Linked DNA regions of Homo sapiens. The protein of the gene in region 1 interacts with the protein of each later gene in a pairwise test. Each region holds a gene or a part of one and is shown on either strand. Other genes may lie near its edges.

Region 1 (7,630 bases):
CAGGCTCCATGGGTGCTAGGTGAAGAGAGATTATCATTGTCAATCATGAAACTGACAAGGGCATGACATCAAGGTCGAGGCTCTGGGAAAAGCTTTGAACATGAGATAATTCCTGGTCTCATGCTGGTCGGCTGTTTCCACCTGCTGAGATATATATATTCCTTGACTAACTGGCTATATATATATATATATATATAACCACTGAAGTGAGAAGAACTGACTGACAGGATTCTGCAGGAATGGTGCCATCCAGAAGCAGAGGCAAGAGTTAGCATTCCTTGAAGTTCCCCAAAATATGTGGGGAACAGAGTCCCAGATCTTTTGGGAAGCTATGCAGCCTATGATGCTTAGAAATACAGATGCTTGGGGACAGGAAATGATGCTTCATCTCCTCGCAAACCCTCCTGCTGTTTCTATCTAAAAGACAGGCATAGAAATGAAAATGCTCATGTGAAAGCTGTCCTCAAAAAAATGAACCTATAGGGAAAATAGTTTACAAAGTACAAAGGCTAAACCTGTGAGAAAGTAAGATGCCCAAGACACTGTGAGAAGCCAAGTGTCAGGGCTCATTCCCCTCAGGCCTGTAGGAAGGAAACCAAGCAGCACTGGCTCCCATCTGCAATTTCTACAATGAGCAGCACTCTCCCAAAACTTAGCCCAACAGATAAAGCTGGTAACATTACCAGCTCCAAGTAATTCCTGCACCTGCAACTGTGCCTTACTCATTGTGTGTACAATAATGTTAGTTCTAACTTCCATCAGCAAGCCAGTGTGCAAACATCCCAGGAGACAGAGATTCAGTTTAAGAAAGCAGTAAGAAACTGCTGGACTACACCAGTAGTCAAGCCCCAAGAACAGACATTTCACTAAGTCTACTTGTTTTAGACAGGACATTCTACCCTGGAGACTTTGCATTAAATTTCCATGTCAAATAATTATTTATCACTCCCACCAAGCAGCAGAGTCCAGGATTATAACTATATTCCCAAGATAAAATGCTGAGAGAGAGCAGTCCCTCCTCTCTGCCAGAACTCACAACATTTCTTCTCTGACATTCGAAGATTTGGGGTTTTGGTTTCATAGCTGTTGTTGTTCTGTTCTGAGGAAGATGCCCCAGACATGGCAGCTCTTCAGATGTCTGAAACAGAGAAGTAGAATGTAAAAAAGGGAAGGGGAAGAAAGAAGACATAACTTAAAAAAAGTCAGTGCATTGGATCCGTGTGGTATAAGTAAAAACACCCTGGGCCAAGAGGCAGGTTCAGTCCTGTTTCTCCCAGTTAGCAGCTACTTCTCTAGCCCTCTGTTTCCTCACCTATAAAAAGAGTTGCACTAGAACCTTACATTTATCTTCTGACTTACGAGTCTACATTTACAGACGTTATCTTCTTCAGTCCTAACAATAATCTTGTAATTAGGCAGATTTTGCCACCATTATTTCTTCTCATTTTACAGATTGAAAATTTGAGATTCATCGAATTAAGTGTCCTGCTCAAGGTTTCATGACCTCAGATTCTAGTTTTAAGAATCTGGGCAGAGTAGTGGCAGCAGTTGGGGTGGGGTGGGTTATGTATAGACGAAGTACATTACCAGGAAATTAACTCCAATCTAACGGTAGGACTCAGTTTTGCAAACAGTGAGGCCGGGCACGGTGGCTCACTCCTGGAATTCCAACACTTGGGGAGGCTGAGGCGGGCGGATCAAGAGGTCAAGAGATAGAGACCATCCTGGCCAACATGGTGAAACCTCGTCTCTACTAAAAATACAAAAATTAGCCGGGCCTGGTGGTGCGCGCCTGTAGTCCCAGCTACTCGGGAGGCTGAGGCAGGAGAATCGCTTGAACCCGGGAGGCGGAGGTTGCAGTGAGCCAAGATCCCGCCACTGCACTCCAGCCTAGCGACAGAGCGAGACTCTGTCAAAAAAAAAAAAAAAAAAAATGAAAAATGAAAAAGAAAGAAAGAAAAGAAAAAAGTGAGGGACGTGGGAAAATCTCGAACATATTCCCTGAAGGAAAAACAGTAACTGGACCCCAAGACAGCCCTAGCACGTCGTCATTTCTCCTCTAGTGCATTCTCAAGCCCTGCTCCGCACCCTCTCCCTAGTTACCCCCGGGACTCAGTCTAAAGAACGCCGGAGCGCTGAGGTGGTAAATGACTTCCCCAAGGTCACCTCAGGAAGAGGGGTAAGCCCTGATTCAAACTGGAGTGGGAAAGTCCTGAGCTCATGCCCCCAATTCAGACAACAGGGGGCTGGTGAGGACGGAAGATCCTGCGCCTTCAAGAGCCTTACACGATTCCTTTACTGACCACACAAATCCTCCAACCCAAACACAGACTGTGGCTCCCGGTCCCAGAACGTCCGCGCTGCCTGCCATGCCTGGGGACCAGCACCTCTCCCCGCACTTCATCCGGGGGCACGCAGCCCCCACATCCCGCCCCGCTAGACCCTACCCGGGGCTGCGCAGCTGTGGCTCACCCTACGATCTCTCCTAAGATCCCTCCCTGCCTTGGCCCCGGCGCCTGCCCTGTAACGCGACCGAACCGAGCCGACAGCTTGTGGCCGGGACCGGCGCTACAGTCGCCGGCAAATCATGTGAGCCCGTCTGGCCCCGCCCCCTCGCGCGTAGGTCCTCACCTGGAGAGAATCATCCACCAATCGGGCGCCTGCAGGACCCAGGGGGCGGGGCAGGGTCGCAATCGCCTAACTGGCTCGGGAAGGCGGCTGGAAGTCGGAACCAGAGAGATCACAAGCTCCTGAGTTTCCCAGCGCCGAGGAGCCTGGTGGCACTGTTGCTTGGTAACTAATAGGGCTGGGGGCGGTGTTAATAAAAAGCTTGACTTTTTTCTGACTCTCGCGAGAGTAGACTATTCGGTAGGCGTCTTGAGAGCGGGTGTGCCGGGTGACGAGAAAATGCTGCAAAGATTAACGCTCTCATTCCTGAATCCCAGCAGAACCTCATTAGATCCATAAATGGGAACGTAAGCTTTAAAGATGTTTTTGCTAGAATAAACTACCACAACACTTGAGCTAATTATGCCTTAGGGTGTATACATACCCGGCTCCACAGGTCAGACGCTGTGACCTAAGAAAATCAACCACTCTCATCGTTGAACCAGAAGCTTCCCTGGACCCACCCATACACCCCATTGGAGTTTTTTTTGTTTTGGTTTGGTTTGGTTTTTGTTTTTTGAGATGGAGTTTTGCTCTTGTTGCCCAGGCTGGAGTGCAATGGCACGACCTTGGCACCGCAACTTTTGCCTCCCGTGTTCAAGCGATTCTCCTGCCTCCCAGTATCTAGAATTAAAGGCATGGACCACCACGCCCAGCTAATTTTGTATTTTTAGTAGAGACGGGGTTTCTCCATATTGATGAGGCTGGTCTCGAACTTCTGACCTCGGGTGATTCACCCGCCTCGGCCTCCCAAAGTGCTGGGATTACAGGTGTGAGCCACTGCGCCCGGCCACCCCGGTGGACTTCTAACCACTCCTACCTTCCCTCCTACCTACCCCCTAACCCAGGCTGTATCATCCGTTGCAGTCGTCTTGAAGAACCAAGGAGGAAAATTGCACCAGCAAAAAAAAATTGAGTCATGAAAGATGTGAAAAGATGGAAACATTACATATAATTTATTCAGAAGCAAAGTCTTTTACAGTGGAGGTGAGTTTGCACCAAGTGAACTACACTTTTCATAGTTGCCCCAGCGGGCCCGTTTGATGCTTGATAAACCCACTCTTGGCAAGTGGGACTTGCTGTCTGAATCCCGGCTGGATAAAGAACAATGAGTATGGATTTCTTGGAAAAGAGAGATATAAATTCAGGGATGTCTTTATTCCTCCTTCGCCTGGGAATTAAACTAATTCTTCCAAAAGTTCAAACAGTTATCTCCTCTTTAAGGCTTTTTACAACTCCCAGAGTGCTCTAGTTGCCCTCTCTATGTCTATACAACTCTGTCTTTATTCATTCAGCCAGTATTTGTTGAACACTTTTTATTTGCGAGGCACAGTCCTGGGTTCTAGGCATACACGTTTGAAAAGGTACAGATAATCTAGCATTATCACGTTGCTTTGAAATTCAGTGGCTGTGTGTCTCACACCCCACCCTGTCTCCCAACTGCAATGAATACTTGTTACAATGAAGGCAGGAATGAAGTCTTCATATTTGTATGCCCAGGAACTGAACTGGAATCTGATGACACGCGTTACACGACTCCTCCTTACACTGCCACCACCTGAATGAGGCAGCTGCCCTGGGCCCAGATGCTGACCTCATACTGTGCTTTCTGAAGTGGCAAATAGACGTTTTCAAGCACAGTCCCAGGGAGGCAGAAAGGCCAGTCTTTTGGCCCCTGGAACCCCAATGAGTCAATGTTTAATGCAGCCACGAGTCTAGTCACAAGTGTGATTGTTTTTGACTGGTCCTTTGACTCACTGACCATTCCTGGCATTCGTTTGCGTTGTGAACTATGATTCTGTTTCTCCTGGTGTAGTCTGGGTGTAGTGTGGAAGCCCCAATTTAATAATTTCCGACCTCACTAAGTGCAAGGTCACATTCCAATCTCCAGACCTTCATTCAGGAACTCCTTCCCCCGCCCTCTTTTCTTGAGCATATATGCTACCCACGCGGAGGGCACCTCACTCGCTCTATAGGTAGCAAGACCCGTTGTCCTTTAGGAATACGGAGGTTTACATCTTCGTTCTGAGGGTGGGGGAAAAATCAGTTGTCACTTTAAAAGAGTTCGCGCTTGCTAAGGTACTAAGGCAGAAGCCGCACCGAAGCGTCGCGATAACTGCAACCACCCGCAACTTCTCGCGATGTTTGGCCCCGCTAAAGGTCGCCATTTTGGAGTCCACCCGGCGCCTGGTTTCCCCGGCGGCGTCTCCCAACAGGCTGCCGGGACCAAAGCTGGCCCCGCGGGTGCCTGGCCTGTGGGCAGCCGGACCGACACGATGTGGCGGCTCCGCTGCAAGGCCAAGGACGGCACCCATGTTTTGCAGGGGCTGTCCAGCCGGACCCGGGTGCGGGAACTCCAGGGCCAAATTGCCGCCATCACCGGGATCGCCCCCGGCGGTCAGCGAATCCTCGTCGGATACCCTCCCGAGTGCCTGGATCTCAGCAATGGGGATACCATTCTGGAAGACTTGCCCATCCAATCTGGTAAGGAATCAGGGCTGGGGCCAGGGAAAGTCCCGGGAGGATGGAGAGGGGCGTGAGAGAGAACAAAACACCAGTCAAGGCAAGGTGGCTGTGAGTCGGCGGGGGGGCTTTGAGGCCAGGGGCGAGGATAGATCAAAGAACAGAGAATGCTGACGGGGGCCAGGGCAAGTGTCTAGCAACTCCTTGTCTTGACACAGGGTTGAAAGGGAACCCAAAGCCTTGAAGACCCCCTTCCCCATTCCGCTTTCTGGTCGGCTTTGAAACTATCCCATTTTGTTTTCCCTCGGCGTCCACAAAAATATAAAGTAGGGCCTATTTTCTCTGTCCTTATGTCTCTTTTTCCCTATATCACCGATGAGATCTCAAGGGTGCAGGATTTTTTTTTTCTTGATTCATTTTTGCAGTCCCCTTCGTAGATACTTCGTTTGACAGGCATACTCATTTTCGAGTTAGCTTTTAAAACACCCACTGAAAGCTCTTTCAATTTCTAACCAGCAGCAGTTATTTCTGTGCCATATCAAAACTTGAACATCAGTGTTTATAATTAAAAGCTTTCAGTTGCTGTATCAAGGATGTTGTAAACACTCTAGAGTAGATAAGTTTCCGGAGAAGGAGAACCCCCTAGCGGCCTACTCTGTAGTGAGCACCTTCTGTAAAATACTGTATAAGGAAAGGAAATTTTGTTTTTGAAATGTATCTTTTTAGGTAAGCTTGAAGTTGTTTACTCCAGACCCCTTCACTAAATTGGGATGCAACCTCAAGTGTTTTTTGTTCTTTTTTCATCTTTATGAAAATTCAGTGAACAAAGATTCTTACTGGTAACTTACTTGCAAAACTGTATTCTCCTTAGTAACCCCAGTTTATGCTTTAACTCCTTCAGTTTGTAATTTACAGACTTGGCTAGAGAACACTCGGTTTCTTCTGTAATTTCTTTGCAGATCGGGATTTGTTTTATTTTTAACAGGTGACATGCTGATCATTGAAGAAGACCAAACCAGGCCCAGAAGTTCACCTGCATTTACTAAACGTGGTGCTTCTAGTTACGTCAGGGAAACTTTGCCTGTGCTTACCAGAACCGTGGTCCCAGCAGACAACTCTTGCCTCTTTACTAGTGTGTACTATGTCGTCGAAGGAGGAGTCTTGAATCCAGCTTGTGCCCCTGAGATGAGACGCCTCATAGCACAAATTGTAGCAAGCGATCCAGACTTCTATAGTGAGGCAATACTGGGAAAAACAAATCAAGAGTACTGTGACTGGATCAAAAGGGATGACACTTGGGGAGGAGCAATAGAGATATCGATTTTGTCCAAGTTTTACCAATGTGAAATATGTGTAGTGGATACACAGACAGTAAGAATTGATCGTTTTGGGGAAGATGCAGGATATACCAAAAGGGTTCTGCTTATTTATGATGGCATCCACTATGATCCACTTCAGCGTAACTTCCCTGATCCAGATACACCTCCTCTGACCATTTTCTCCTCTAATGATGATATTGTTCTTGTACAAGCACTGGAATTAGCAGATGAAGCTAGAAGAAGGAGACAGTTTACTGATGTCAACCGCTTCACCCTGAGATGCATGGTATGTCAGAAAGGATTAACTGGACAAGCAGAAGCAAGGGAACATGCCAAGGAGACAGGCCATACCAACTTTGGAGAAGTGTGACCTATGCATGAATGAGGGTTGAAGCCTACTACCTCACACATCCAGAAGGCTCTGGGTTTTCCAATAAGCTATGGTAACCCTAAAGAACAAAGGATACAATGCTTGAACCATCCTTTTAACTTAAAACCACTAAGACACTGAAATTCCTTGTTAAGATTAAAATTAGTGTGCAAGTTTACAGATGTGTGTCTACAGTGGTAAACTGTACATACATGCCTCTTTCTGCTGGAGTGACAGAATAGGTGATCCTTGCCACCTACTGACACTGACCTGAAGGTTGAGATTGAGTATTATAAACTAGCACCCAGCAGCTTTAACTTGTAGAAGAAAGCATCACATTTTGGGTAATGTGGAAGGCCTCCTGTGAGTCCACTGGGCATACGATTGAGATTGAGTATTATAAACTAGCACCCAGCAGCTTTAACTTGTAGAAGAAAGCATCACATTTTGGGTAATGTGGAAGGCCTCCTGTGAGTCCACTGGACATTTACCACAGTGTCTCCAGTAACTGAGTCTTTTTAAAAACTCTGAATGAGTTAAGTTTCTAAATTATGAATTGATTCATCAAATGAAGATACTCAGAATTGTCCAAACTGATTTTATATTGCAATTTGGTAGACATTATAAATGTGTGCTTAACCACTGATAAGTACATCACAAGCAATTTTTACAGGGATGAGTCTCATCCTTGAGAATGTTATCACAAAACAGGAACTGATTGTGCCCTGTTTAAGATCTCTAGCATATAAAACGTAGAATGTATGAGGGAATAGGTGCCTGAGCAGCTTCCTGAAGCTTTAAAAGACCGTTG
Region 2 (7,279 bases), on another chromosome or scaffold:
GATAGTATAATGCGCTTACACACGAAGAAAGGGAAGAAGACAAGGGGAGAAGAAGTGATTATAGGAATTAGGTTCCTGTTTCCTTGCTAGCTGTCAACCAAGGGTTGCTCTCAGCTTCTGGAAGTTACCTGCATTCTTTTGCTCATGGCCACCTCCATCTTGAAACACAGCCATGGTACACTGAATACTTCTTTTGCTTTGAATCTTCCCAACTTCTCTTTGATCTTTGTTTTTTCTGCCCCTTAAGGAGTTCATGTGGTTAGATCAGGCCCAACCAGATAACCTGTTTTATGGTCAATTGTCTTGGGACTTCAATTACAACAGCATAATCCCTACATAGTGGTGCAGATGGTCCCTGATTTACGATGGCTCAACTTACAGTTTTTCAACTTTATGATGATGTGAAAGCAACACACATTCAGTATAAACTGTACTTTGAATTTTGATATTTTCCTGGGTTAGAGAGTATGATACTCTGTGACGGTGCTGGACAGCAGTAGTGAGCTGCAGCTCCCATCAGCCACACAATTATGATGGTAACAACTGATACTGTACTCTATACTGTACTGTATGCAACCAGTTACATGAGATAGTCAACACTTTATCATACAAGGGGATTTGTGTTAAGTGATTTTGCCCAACTGTAGGCAAATGTGTTCTGAGCACATTTAAGGTAGGCTAGGCTGAGCTAATATATTCAGTAGGTTAGGTGCATTAAATACATTTTCCACTTGAAAATATTTTTCAGTTACAATGGTTTTATTGAAACATAACCCCATTTTAAATTGAAGAGCATCTGTACTTTGATTAGTATTTGACTGAATAACCAGGGGAAGCAATCTTGAGGGGGAAAGCATCTTTAGAATTCTGCCTATCACAGTACCTTGGGGGACTACTGCAAATGAATGTATCCCATTAGAACTTCTCTACACCTCTAATCACCTTTTGTCTTAAAGTGGCTGAGGTGAGATAAAGGGATCTAAAGGGATTGGGAGCATGGAGGGAGAAACAAGTTCTGTTCCATTAAAGTCACGCATTTACTTTCAGTTTCTTTCTGCATGGCAAGCTTTCAGTGTTCTCAGCCCACCCAATACTTTATATTGGGCAGAAACATCCTGATGGCTGATGCCATCAGTTTTGGCCTTGGATCTAGCACCCACAGCCATAGGCTCTGGCTGAGTCCATGGGGTTTGCACCTTCAGGCTGACTTGAGCTTGACTTGCACAGGGGTAACCTTGAATGAGGAGGATTCCATCCATTACCAAGTTAACATTTTTAAAGTTCTCATCAGGTTTCAACATAAGGGCTAGGGGAATTTTTCAGAGGAACAGGGCTGACTGCAAGCATTTATTTACATTTCTTTAGGTCAGTTTGTTTTTCATCAATGGATCGCCTTCGTCAGTACGGTAACACCAACCCAGAGTACTAAGAGGCTGAATATGCACTTGATTTCCCATAGTACTTTGTCTCAGGGAAATCTTACCTAGAGGACCAAATCTTCCTGATGGCAGTCAGGGCTCACTGCGATGAAAATATGAGACCTTTTACTGTTGCCTACAAATGGATCTAAGGTTGGGCTCGCAGACTGCAGAAGGTGCTGATCTGTAAGGCAGCACAGTTGTTGCCATTCTTTCTTAACAAGCATTGACATGCTACCTCCTTATACCCTCAAGGTCTCAACTCCCAGATGATCCAGCTAAAGTGTAATGATTTGTTTGGCTCTGCCAATAGCTATTGTTAATTTCCCTCCTTTCACATTCACTGTGCGTCTCTGTAATTTTCTGCGGAAAAATTGCAGATACTAGGATGAAATAACTTTTGTCAGACCCAGATAAAATAGGGCCAGGCCAGGCACGGTGGCTTACGCTTGTAATCCCAGCACTTTGGGAGGCCGAGGCGAGCGGATCACCTGAGGTCAGGAGTTCGAGACCAGCCTGGCCTACATAGTGAAACCCCCATCTCTACTAAAAGTACAAAAATTAGTCGGACGTGCTGGCATGTGGTTGTAATCCCAGCTACTGGGGAGGCTGAGGCACGAGAATTGCTTGAACCTGGGAGGTGGAGGTTGCAGTGAGCCAAGATCACACCATTGCACGCTAGCCTAGGTGAAGAAGCGAGACTCTGTCTCAAAAAAAAAAAAAAAAAAAAAAAAGGCCAGGAAGGCATGAAGGAGAGGAACGTCATGCTTACATGTTTGAAGTAAGAATTGTTAAGTTGGGCGTGGTAGCTCATGCCTGTAATCCCAGCACTTTGGGAGGCCGAGGTGGGTGGATCACCTGAGGTTGGGAGTTCGAGAACAGCCTGACCAACATGGAGAAACCCCATCTCTACTAAAAATACAAAATTAGCCAAGCATGGTGGTGCATGCCTGTAATCCCAGCTACTAGGGAGGCTGAGGCAGGAGAATCGCTTGAACCCGGGAGGCGGAGGTTGCGGTGAGCCGAGATCATGCCATTGCACTCTAGCCTGGGCAACAAGAGCAAAACTCTGTATCGAAAAAAAAAAAAAAGGAAAAGAAAAGAATTGTTTCAAAGGACTTTTTAAAAACTCCACAAGAAATCTTTTCTAGGGAGTGGGGAGGGATAGCATTAGGAGATATATCTAATGTTAAATGATGAGTTATGGGTGCAGCACACCAACATGGCACATGTATACATATGTAACTAACCGGCATGTTGTGCATATGTACCCTAAAACTTACAGTATAATTAAAAAAAAAAAAGAAAAAAGAAAGAAATCTTTTCTAGCCGGGCGCGGTGGCTCACGCCTGTAATCCCAGCACTTTGGGAGGCTGAGGCAGGCAGATCATGAGGTCAGGAGTTTGAGACCAGCCTGACCAACATGGTGAAACCCTGTGTGTACTAAAAAAAAAAAAAAAAAAAAAAAAATTAACCGGGTATGGTGGCACGCACCTGTAATCCCAGCTACTCAGGAGTTGGAGGTTGCAGTGAGCTGAGATGGCGCCACTGCACTCCAGCCGGGGCAACAGAGCGAGACTCTGTCTCAAAAAAATAAAAATAAAAAAATAAAAGAAATCTTTTCTTCATCCTTCATGAATGTCCTGTCACAAGGTTTATCAGCAGGCATTCTTTTTTTTTGTTCTGTTTAGAAATAGGGCCTCACTCCATTGCCAAGGCTGGAATGCAGTGGTGCAATCATAGCTCACTGTAACCTCAAACTCCTGAGCTCAAGCAATCCTCCCACCTCAACCTCCTAAGCACCTAGGACTAAAGGCATGTACCACAACACCTGGCCAAGTTGTTTTCATTTTTTCTAGAGAAAGGGTCTTGCTATGTTGCCCAGGTTGGTCTTGAACTCCTGGCCTCCAGCAATCCTCCCTCCTCAGCTTCCCAAAGTGTTAGCATTCCAGGAGTGAGCCACGGGGGCCCAGCCTAGACATTCTTTAGTACTATAGTAATTCAGATAAGATGCTCTTGAAAGAACACTTGCCCAGTAACGGCAATGTCTCCCAAGTAGCTGGGATTACAGGTGTGCGTCACCACCACCGGCTAACTTTTGTATTTTTAATAGGGACAAGGTTTCGCCATATTGGCCACGCTGAGGTCGAACTTCTGACCTCAGGTGATCCGCCCCCTCAGCCTCCCAAAGTGCTGGGATTACAGGTGTGAGCCACCGCTCTCAGCCGCGTGTTTTAATCATAATACTTTGGTCTTTTTTTTTTTTTTTCGTAAATACTTTCCTCTTTTTTTTTTTTTTTTTTTTTTTTGAGATGGAGTTTCACTCTTTTTGCCCAGGCTGGAGTGCAGTGGCGTGATCTGGGCTCACTGCAACCTCCACCTCCCGGATTCAAGCGATTCTCCTGCCTCAGCCTCCTGAGTAGCTGGGGTTACAGGCGCCCGCCACCACGCCTGGCTAATTTTTGTACTTTTAGTAGAGACGAGGTTTCGCCATGTTGGCCAGGGTGGTCTTGAACTCCTGACTTCAGGTAATTCACCAGCCTCGACCTCCCAAAGTGCCGGAATTACAGGTGTGAGCAATCGCGCCCAGGCTTTTTTTTCTTCTTCTTTTAGAGTCAATTAAGACTGGGAAAGCGAAAATCCTAGCGCTACTTGGGACCAGCAGCTATCAGTTGGTCGGAGGCTCGAAGTGGTGGTGCATGGCCGGGCTGTCTGTGATTCTTAGGATGGGAAGCTTGACCTTGGCGGGCTCACCCTCTCATCTGGGTCAAGGGGCACATTCTCGGTGGCCTGATGACTGGGAGGGAGCGGAAGAGGGCGGGGCCGGGGTGGGGCCGCGGCGCCGGGACTGCGGGTGCTCGGCCGGAGCGCTCCAGCCGCTGGTCCCCGGGAGACCCTGTGCCCCTAAATCGCGGTCCACTGCGCGCGTCAGGTGAGTAGAGCGGCGGCGGGGAGTCGCGCTAGCGGTAGTAGAGGCTGATGTTGGATGTTGTCCCCACTCCTCTGACTCTTCCGCAGGCCAGGGGAGCACTGCGCCCCTAATCTTGGAGGGGCTTCCAACCTCTGGGGTCCTCCGGGGAAACGTGGGTTAGTCTGGGGTGTATCCAGGTGCCCTGTCCACTGTGGGCACTCTGGGGATTCCGGGCCGAGGAAGGGCTCCTGGCACGTGTTGAAAAAGTCGGCATCCCAGAAGGAAGATTCTGGGCGGATGGGCATCGGGGAAGGTAGTCCCAACCAATGGGACCGTTTCTGAGCACATAAGCGCATTCAGTGGGTGCTAACAAGCGCCTGCTTTGCCAGGCGACAGTGAGCAAAACCGGCTTTGTTCCCGGCCACCGGAAGCTTCGAGGCTGGGGTTCCGGATCTGGGCGCCCAATGACAAACTAAGCGCGGAGGACAGGGCCAGGAGCGCCCACCAGGGCGGCGATCTGGTGGGTAGGTGCAGGGCAATGGCTGGAAAGGGTCCCCGAAGCCCTGAGCAGAGACCAAAGGGCCGTGCGACTGCAGGAAGGCCATTTTGCTTGGCTGACAGGCGGAAAACTCACGTGGCTGGAGTAGCAGGGTTGGTGACGACAAGGGTGAATCCCACTAAGCATTGCAACTGTTTGCGGTGTGAGGGGTGAGGGGGATTCTCATCATTCTCAGAATTGCTGTGGATAAAGGGTTTTGGGTTGGAGAGAGACTGGGTGCACTCAAAGGACTGAAAGATGGCGACGACACATTCCCTCAGAGGATTTACATTCTGGAAGGGTGGGGACAGGCCCGGGTACAGATAAGCCCGCAGGCGGCCTCCAGCTCTTACAGTCGAAAGTCTGATGAGTTATGCCCAGTCTCCTTCCTCCTCCCGCCGGCATGAGGTTTGGGGCCCTGTGGATGAAGGAAGTTCATGGGAGGCAAACGTGCCTGGGCAAGCAACAGCCGCAGAGATTCAGTCCCCACGGGGGTTAGAATCCACACTTAGGGCCTCTGCCTACCGCCTCCAGCAAATGCCATCTTGAGGACTAGCGGCAGCAGTAGGTCTTCTCTGCCAGAGAACTGGAAGGCCAGGTTCTTGAGGGCACTGTTACTAAGGCGTTTTTTTTTGTTTGTTTGTTTGTTTGTTTGTTTTTGAGACGGAGTTTCACTCTCATTTCCCTGGCTGGAGTGCAATGGCGCGATCTCCGCTCACCGCAACCTCTGCCTCCCGGGTTCAAGCGATTCTCCTGCCTCAGCCTCCCTAGTAGCTACGATTACAGGCATGCGCCACCACGCCGGGATAATTTTGTATTTTTAGTAGAGACGAGGTCCATGTTGGTCAGGCTGGTCTCAAACTCCTGACCTCAGGTGATCCGCCCGCCTCGGCCTCCCCAAGTGTTGGGATTACAGGCTGAGCCACCGTGCCCAGCCTTATTAAGGCTGTTTTGAAGTGCAGTTGGCTGGAAAGTGGAAGAATAATCCAAGATCTGCATGCCTCATAAAAGGAGTGCGAATGGTTTTGAAAGACAGGAAAGGAAAGGGAGAGAGAGGAAAGAAAGAGAGAGGAAGAAAGGAAGGAAATCAAATTCATATCCCAGGAATGCACCTTTCATGACAACATTTTGGAGATCCAATTAACTCTATTCCTCGAGGGCGTTTTTCCTTGCTGGTATTTTCAGTTCTATTAACACTTCTCAAAAAGTGAAAGGAAAAAATAGTCAACAGGGTTTTTTGGTCTTTATTCTTTTCTTTCTATCTCTAGTAAGGGAGATGTGGGTGAGTGGCTGTCAGCAGGAAAAGGTGAGAGTTCAGCTATGTTTGCATCTGAGCAGGAAATTTCCAAGGATGAGCAGGGAACTCCAGTGCTGGGCTCATTGTGAGCCCTGAATAAGTGATTGCTCTTGGGTTGTTAGCAGTATTCTTCACAAAGATCTGTATATACAGTGGTTCCCCTTATCCACAGGTGATATGTTCCAAGAGCTCTAGTGGATACTTTGTTTTTGTTGTTGTTTGAGGCAGAATCTCGCTCTGTCACCCAGGCTGGAGTACAGTGGCACAGTCTTGGCTCACTGCAACCTTCACCTCACGGGTTCAAGTAATTCTGCCTCAGCATCCTGAGCAGCTGGGACTACAGCGTGCCACCACGCCCAGCTAATTTTTGTATTTTCAGTAGAGACGGGGTTTCACCATGTTGGCCAGGCTGGTCTCAAATTCCTGCCCTGAAGTGATCCACCGCGCCCCACCCCAGTGGATACTTTGAAACCATGAATAGTACCAAACCCTGTATACACTATGGTTTTCTTTTTCTATACATACATAATAATGATAAAGTTTAATTTACAAATTAGGCATGGTAAGAGATTGACAACAATAACTAGTAATAAGATAGAACAATTACAGCAATATATTGTAATAAAAGTTGTATGAATGTGGTATCTCTCTCAAAATAATTTATATTGTAAATCTTAGCAACCTCAGCATATGATTATTTTTTCTTTCCTTAAGACAAGAATTTTTACCTTTTTATTTTATGGCTTCTCTTTGCATATCTGAATTTCCAGCGTCTCTACTCTTGTGCTTTTGGGTCATTATTAAGTAAAATAAGGCATTCTTGAGCACAGGCAACTGCTATACTACAGTAGTCAACCTGGTAACTGAGATGGCTAGCTACTAAGGAACTAATGGGCAGGTATTGTCTGCAGTGTGGATATGCTAGTCAAAGGGATGATTCACATCCTGGGCAGGCCAGAGAGAAAAGGTACAAGATTTCATCACACTACTCAGAATGTCAAGCAATTTAAAACTTAGGAATTGTTTATCTCTGGATTTTTTTTTGAGACGGAGTCTCGCTCTATGTCCCAGGCTGGAGTGCAGTGGCGCAGTCTTGGCTCATGGCAACGTCCACC
Region 3 (6,864 bases), on another chromosome or scaffold:
GGTTTAATTGGCTCTGCAGGCTGTACAGGTTTAAATGGTTCTGCAGGCTGCACAGGAAGCACAGTGATACCATCTGCCTCTAGTGAGGCATCAAGAAGCTTACAATCACGGCAGAAAGCAAACGGGGAGCAGGTGTATTAATGGCAAGAGCTGGAGTGAGACAGAGAGGGGAGAGGACACACTCTTTTAAATAACCAGATCTCACAGGAACTACCAGAGCAAGAACACACTCATCACTAAGGCAATGGCACTAAGCCATTCACAGGAGATTCTCCCTTATAATCCAAACACCTCCCAACAGGCCACCTTTAACACTGGGGATTACATTTCAACATGAAATTTGGGAGGGACACAGATCCAAACCTTATCAAACAGTTATTATAAGTTAAAAAGTTAAGAAAATGATGGTCTTAGTGAATGAACAGATGTGAAATCTCATCAAAAGACATGGAAGCTGCACAAATGAACCAAATAGAAATACTAGCACTGAAAAGTGTTAATACTGTAATGGACTTAACAGTAGATTGAAATAAGGGTCAGCATATTTTTGAGACGGATCCATAGAAATTATTTAACTTAAAGAGAAAAAAATCAAAAAAATGTAAATAAAGTCTTGGTGAGCTGTGAGTCAGTATCATATGGTCCAACATACAATTAATTGAACTGAATTTCCAGAAGGAGAAGAGAGAGAAATGGGTATGGTGCAGTAAAGAAATAATGACTGCAAGTTTTTCAAATTTTGTGAATAATATCTACTTATGTATCTGTGAAACTCAGAAAACCACAGTAGAATACAGAAAGAAGCATACATCATAGACTAACTGCAGAAAAACCAATGATAAAAAGTTATTCTTAAAACCAACAATATGCATTCTGTCAGATAAAAATGGAGGTCAAAATTGTTGGGGAATAAAATAAAAAAAATCTGTACACCCAGAATTCTATAACCAGTAAAAATATCATTACAAAATTCATACAAAATAAAAACATTTTTAGATTTAAAAATCTAAAAAGATTTTGTCTGTAGCTGTTCTGCACTACAAGAAATACTAAAGGGACTAGGTATAGTGGCTCACACCTGTATCCCAGCACTTTGGTAGGTCAAGGCAGGCAGACTGCTTGAATCCAGGAGTTTTAGACCAGTCCATGTAACAAAGCCAAATCTTGTCTCCCCCCTCCAAAAAAAAAAAAAAAAATTAGCTGGGCATGGTGGCATGTGCCTGTAATCTCAGCTACTTGGGACGCTGAGGTGGAAGAATCACCTGAGCCCAGGAGGTCGAGGCCGCAGTGGGCTGAGGTTGTGCCACTGTACTCCAGCCTAGGCAACCAGAGTGAGACACTGTCTCAAAAATAACAAGAACTACTATAGGAAAGTCTCTAGCCTGAAGGTAAGTGATAATAGGTGAAATTAAGATCTATAAGAAAAAAAACGAGGAGCACAGGAAATTGTGTATATGTGGAAATATAGAAAAGCTATTTTCTTCTTTTAATTTCTGTAAAAGACAATGCACTAGTTAAGCAAAACTTAAAACATTTTGTTGTGTAAAGTCTATAATTAATGGGTATGTAAAATCTGATAGCATTTGCACATACAATTGAGGAACTGTAAAGTAATTATAAATTTCTTAACTTTATGTGAAGTGGTACATTATTAACTCTAAGTAGACTGTGGTAACCTAAGAACAACCAGTGAAAAGGAAATAACACGAAGAAATACACTTGGAGCAACAGAGCAACTAAAATGGGATTAGTATAAAAAGTAGTTAATTTGTCATCCCTCGAAATGTCCAGGTTGGAAAGTCATCAGATCAGGAAATTTCAGAAAAACAGGAAATTGAGTTCTTCTTCTTCCCCTCGAAAGTTGTGATTTGGGGTATATGACATACTTGATTTTATTTTAATCCCTCAAAGCAATATGTTTCACAAGACATGTTTTGCTCTTGAAATTTTTGGTATCTTCACGTGGCCACTGTGGATGTTTACATTCATAAGCTCAATTACTTGGCCTCTTTCATAAATTTTAAACAAAGGTAACATGCCGAGACCAGCTCAGTCGGGGAGACCCTAACCCAGCGGCGCTAGAGGAATTAAAGACACACACACAGAAATATAGAGGTGTCAAGTGGGAAATCAGGGGTGTCATAGCCTTCAGAGCTGACACCCCCGAACAGAGATTTACCCACGTATTAACAGCAAACCAGTCATTAGCATTGTTTCTATAGATGTTAAATTAACTAAAAGTATCCCTTAAGGGAAACGAAGGGATGGGCCGGATTAACTGCAGCAGGAACACGCCCTTAAGACACAGACCGCTCATGCTCATTGTTTGTGGCTTAACAATGCCTTTAAGCGGTTTTCGCCCTGAGCGGGCCAGGTGTTCCTCACCCTCACTCCCGTAAACCCACAACCTTCCAGCTTGGGCATTAGGGCCATTATGAACATGTTACAGTGCTGCAGAGATTTTGTTTATGGCCAGTCTTGGGGCCAGTTTATGGCCAGATTTTGGGGGGCTTGCTCCCAACAGTAACATATGCTATTATAATTTAGTTTCACCACCAGTTTCTTTGTTTTATGCTTTCAGTAAAACACTATGTCTGCATCTGAGAAATGTTCTGTGCAATTATTACTGAGAAGAACAGTATGAATTTTTTAATCTATTCTCACATGAATATTAACAAATAACACACATACAAAGAAAAATATAAAATTCTAGAACTCCACTCCCACATCCCTTCCCCTTTCCAACCTTCTCCCACAATGGGGTTCTGCCAAGTACTCCTCAGAGCTTAATCAAGCTTACTTCTGTCCAGTTCTGATTCTTTATAAGGTCAGAGGACCTTCAGTTCTCCCACTTCCTGTCAGTGTATTGTGCTTCTCTCCAAGCACCACCACAGAACTGAATCCCATTGGTCTGAAAGAAATATTTGTGCCTAACAGTAATAAGCAAATGGCATTTTTCTCCCAATGTCAGAAAACATGGGCAACCTGCTCCCTTTCCCCTTTATTGGCGTCTCTCCCGCCTTCCCTCCAAGATCAAATTGGCCTCCCCCAATTCTGTGGAAAAGAAAACAGAATTTCTGGGCCCTATGCCCAAGTGTTTCCAGCCAGCACGGCATTGCCAAGGCTAAATCACCAAGCCAAGGACCTGGGGGTGGGCGCAAATGCAAATCAAAAAGGCTCTTGAGGCCGGGTGCAGTGGCTCACGCCTGTAATCCCAGCACTTTTGGAGGCCGAGGCGGGCGGATCACGAGGTCAGGAGATCGAAACCATCCTGGCTAACACGGTGAAACCCCGTCTCTAGTAAAAAATACAAAAAATTAGCCGGGCGTGGTGGCGGGCGCCTGTAGTCCCAGCTGCTAGGGAGGCTGAGGCAGGAGAATGGCCTGAACCTGGGAGGCGGAGCTTGCAGTGAGCCGAGATCGCGCCACTGCACTCCAGCCTGGGCGACAGAGTGAGACTCCGTATCAAAAATAAAAATAAAAAAATAAAAAAGGCTCTTGAGAAAGAGGGGTTTCTTCATTTTCTCTCTAGGCGCAGTAATCTATGAACAAAGCTCCCTTTCCCAGGCCCTGCAACCTGCCCCTCTGATTGGAAGTGACCGTGGGCTGGCTTTTATCTTTTCTTTCACCTCTTATTAGAGTAGTGACAACTTATTTTCTTCATTTCTTCCTCCCCCTCGGCTTTTAGGTTTCAGCGGACTTCAGGGTGCCCCACCTCTTCCAGGAAGACGCTCCCCCGGGCTGGCGGCTCTCCCAGCGCGGGGCGGGGTCCGAGACGGGGAAGCCGCGCGCGGGGAAGGAGGGTCCAGGCGTGCCGGACCCGCCCCCAGAACCCGCGCCTAGCCCTCCCTTCCGCGCGCTTACTTTGTTTATAACTTGAAAAATCCTCTCCGTCTCCCTTCCCTGCCTCCTTTCCTTTCCCTTTCCTCTGCCAGTACAACTAGACCCGGCGTCTGGCGTCCCCGGTGCCCAGCATTCTGCGGGGCAGGCGGTGAGTGGGGCTGGACAGGCGGGCGCAGAGCAGGACAGGGTGGCGCGGGCGCCCGGGCTGCGGGGCCGAGGGCGTCGTCAGGGGAGGCCCGAGGCCGCGGTGCCTGCGGGCAGGCGCGGAGGTTGCGCGGCGTCCTGCGCTAGCAGTTCCCGGACACTGCGCTCGCGTCGCATCCTCAGGTGGTTGCAGAAGTTCCGTGGTGTCGGGCGCGCGTCTGCACTGCAGACGCAGAGGGTTTGGGAGCGAGCAGTTTCCTGCCCAGGGATGGGGGTCCTGGCTGCACTTCACGGGGGCGGCCCTTTCGTTTCGCTCTGCGTGACAGGTCTCGCTTGATTGGGTTTCTCATGGGTCTCTGGCGTTTCTACGGCGCGGCTCTCACGGACTCAGGCCAGGCCACTCGCAGGTAAAAACGCTATTTATAGTAACTTTTTAATTGCTCAGCGAGTGGAGGCGGTGACAGGAGAGAATCCCTCTCTCTTATTTCCAATTCTGGCAAACTGGGGCGATTTGGGGCTGTGCTTGATTTGTTTTTAAAAACGTTCATATTTAAAGACTTAGGATTTTATTTTGTGGCCTTATCTTCTCTTAGGATCTACAATTTAGTTTTTAATTTTATACTGCATTTAGAATGGAGCCACCAAAATAAGTACTTGTGAAGATATAATGCACCAAACTTGATACTGCTTAAAGGGGAATAGATTGCCTAATTTAAATTGCATTCTCCTGTAATAGTAATAGAACACAACCTCCATCTGTCTATCTGCTCTCATGGATAGCTGTGAAATACTAGCAGCATTTCCATTAAATTTGAAAAAGACAAGAATGCTAATCATTACACTCTGTGACATGGTTGTGAATTCTATGGGCGAGTGACAACAGGTAGGGGAACATATTATCACTTTATGCATGATGTGAGTGTATACCTTAATGTCCATAGGAAACACTGAAATTTGATGGGAAGCATAAGTGAATTTATCAAAGTTTCCAATTGCATCATACTTAATTTATAGAAGTCAGTTGATGTTTATACATAAACTAGATAATACAGTAAAATAAAGTAAAATTCAGTTTGGCATGAAATAACACACAATTGAGAAATTATTTTTAAGAAGATATAAAAAGGTATGTATGAGAATCCAATAAAATACATAACATTCTTCTAGGTAAAGATATCATTTCTCTAAAACAACGTATAAGTAGAATCCTAACTGAATATTTTTGTTACTGTTTTTAACTGTACTGTTTAGCTCATGTGGAAGAACAAACATATTAACGTTATGTATAATATATTACAAATAATAAAATACAAAATATATAATTATGTCTTATTTTATATATTATATATGATTTTAACATTTAATATTATACATACACACATATATATAGTGGAGACTTCTTCATATAATAAAAGGTGTTACAAAACTGTGGTGATTAAAAGACAGTGCAGTAGACCTACTACCAGATGTGTAAATGAAACTGAAGAGACATGGAAGAATAAAAGGAAAGCTGGCATTTGATAAGCATACATTTTAAATCACTGGGTGGGAAGAAGAAATAACATTTAATTGAATGTACTTGGACAAGCAGGAATTTGTTTGGGAAACCTAATAATAAAACTGGAACTTTTCCTCACTGTTAATAGACAAATGTAGTCTAGATGGCTTACTAGTTTAAATCTAAACATATGCAGCCTAAAAAGGGAAAAAGAAAGCCTGAATAGATATTTGTGCACATTGCATGTGGGAAAAGCATTTCTAAGCATAATACAAAAACCTAGACCCATTTAGGGACATGATTTTTATTAACATTTGCATCCCCCAAAAAAGATACAAACTGCGGACATTGTTAATAGAAAAAAAAAGATAATTTTGCTAATATACCTAGAAATCTTATTAATGACCTTCAAAATCAATGACCCAGTTAAGGATAAAAAGAGTCAACTCAAAGCAAAAGAAATGCAAATAATAAGCAGAGTGAATACTGTTAGCCACACTAATTATCCAAAACATATATGAAGTAAGACATCAATTTTTGCATTAATTTTACAAATTTTGAAAGTCTGATAACTTTAGGTGTTGTTGAAAATGCAGTGAGGAAAATATAATTTTACAAACTTTTAGTGGAAATGTGAATTGGTGAAGCTGTTTTAGGGTTAAAGCTGTTCAGATTTACAAATGTTCATTTACTTAACTGGAATTTATCCAGCAAAACATGCTCCCAAGTGTACAAATAAAAATCTCTGTCAAAGATGTTTAAAGTAGGATTGTTTACAATGTAGAAAACATGGATACAGCTCTGTAGCCATTGATTGGGAATTGGTTACATAATGTATGGTATATTCAAAGGTGGAATAATATACAGTTTAAAACATTGTAGCTCTAAATGTTCTAACTTGGAAATATGTCCAAAACATAAAGTTAAAACACAAAATGAAACAACAAGTTGAAACACTGTGTGTGTGTGTGTGTGTCTGTGTGTGTGTAGTGTAGTAATTATATTTTTGTAAATAATTTGGAATATAGGCTGAATTATATTGTGAGTAGTGATGTTTTACACACAGCCGAATTATATTATTATGAGTAGTGATGTTGTTTTACACATTTCTATAATGTATGCGTGTGTATAAGGAAAAATTGATAGTGATAGTAATTTATACAGAACATTGCCTTCTTGAATATATTAGCTGTCATTTACTACAGAAGAAATATATTTCACAAAACCTTTCATATTGTCTCATTTTTTTTCTTTTATAAGTGTCCTCTTTCAGCTGCTTCCTTTAAAATCCCCTTCCTTAATATTGATGTTTATGATGTTTATTGCAAGAACAGCAGTGAAGAATTTTGCTTGAGGGATTTCACAACCAGTTAACTTTTA

Evidence for each region. The genes of interacting proteins can lie anywhere in the genome.
Region 2: the proteins of YOD1 (region 1) and ZFP57 interact in binary tests that used the Homo sapiens proteins (3 or more experiments, as listed by UniProt).
Region 3: the proteins of YOD1 (region 1) and PLSCR4 interact in binary tests that used the Homo sapiens proteins (3 or more experiments, as listed by UniProt).

Annotation. Positions count from the first base shown.
Region 1 is NC_000001.11:207,048,209-207,055,838, reverse strand, and holds the start of YOD1 (ubiquitin thioesterase OTU1), read left to right. Parts: upstream 1-4,630; 5' UTR 4,631-4,808; coding exon 4,809-5,151; intron 5,152-6,115; coding exon 6,116-6,819; 3' UTR 6,820-7,630. Other genes in the region: PFKFB2 (6-phosphofructo-2-kinase/fructose-2,6-bisphosphatase 2), read right to left, coding at 1,037-1,121. UniProt on the Homo sapiens protein: Hydrolase that can remove conjugated ubiquitin from proteins and participates in endoplasmic reticulum-associated degradation (ERAD) for misfolded lumenal proteins.
Region 2 is NC_000006.12:29,678,133-29,685,411, reverse strand, and holds the start of ZFP57 (zinc finger protein 57 homolog), read left to right. Parts: upstream 1-4,259; 5' UTR 4,260-4,350; intron 4,351-7,279. UniProt on the Homo sapiens protein: Transcription regulator required to maintain maternal and paternal gene imprinting, a process by which gene expression is restricted in a parent of origin-specific manner by epigenetic modification of genomic DNA and chromatin, including DNA methylation.
Region 3 is NC_000003.12:146,248,086-146,254,949, reverse strand, and holds the start of PLSCR4 (phospholipid scramblase 4), read left to right. Parts: upstream 1-3,844; 5' UTR 3,845-3,990; intron 3,991-4,312; exon of another isoform or gene 4,313-4,393; intron 4,394-6,864. UniProt on the Homo sapiens protein: Catalyzes metal ion-induced ATP-independent rapid bidirectional and non-specific movement of phospholipids (lipid scrambling or lipid flip-flop) between the inner and outer leaflet of the plasma membrane and participates in the redistribution of phospholipids between membrane leaflets.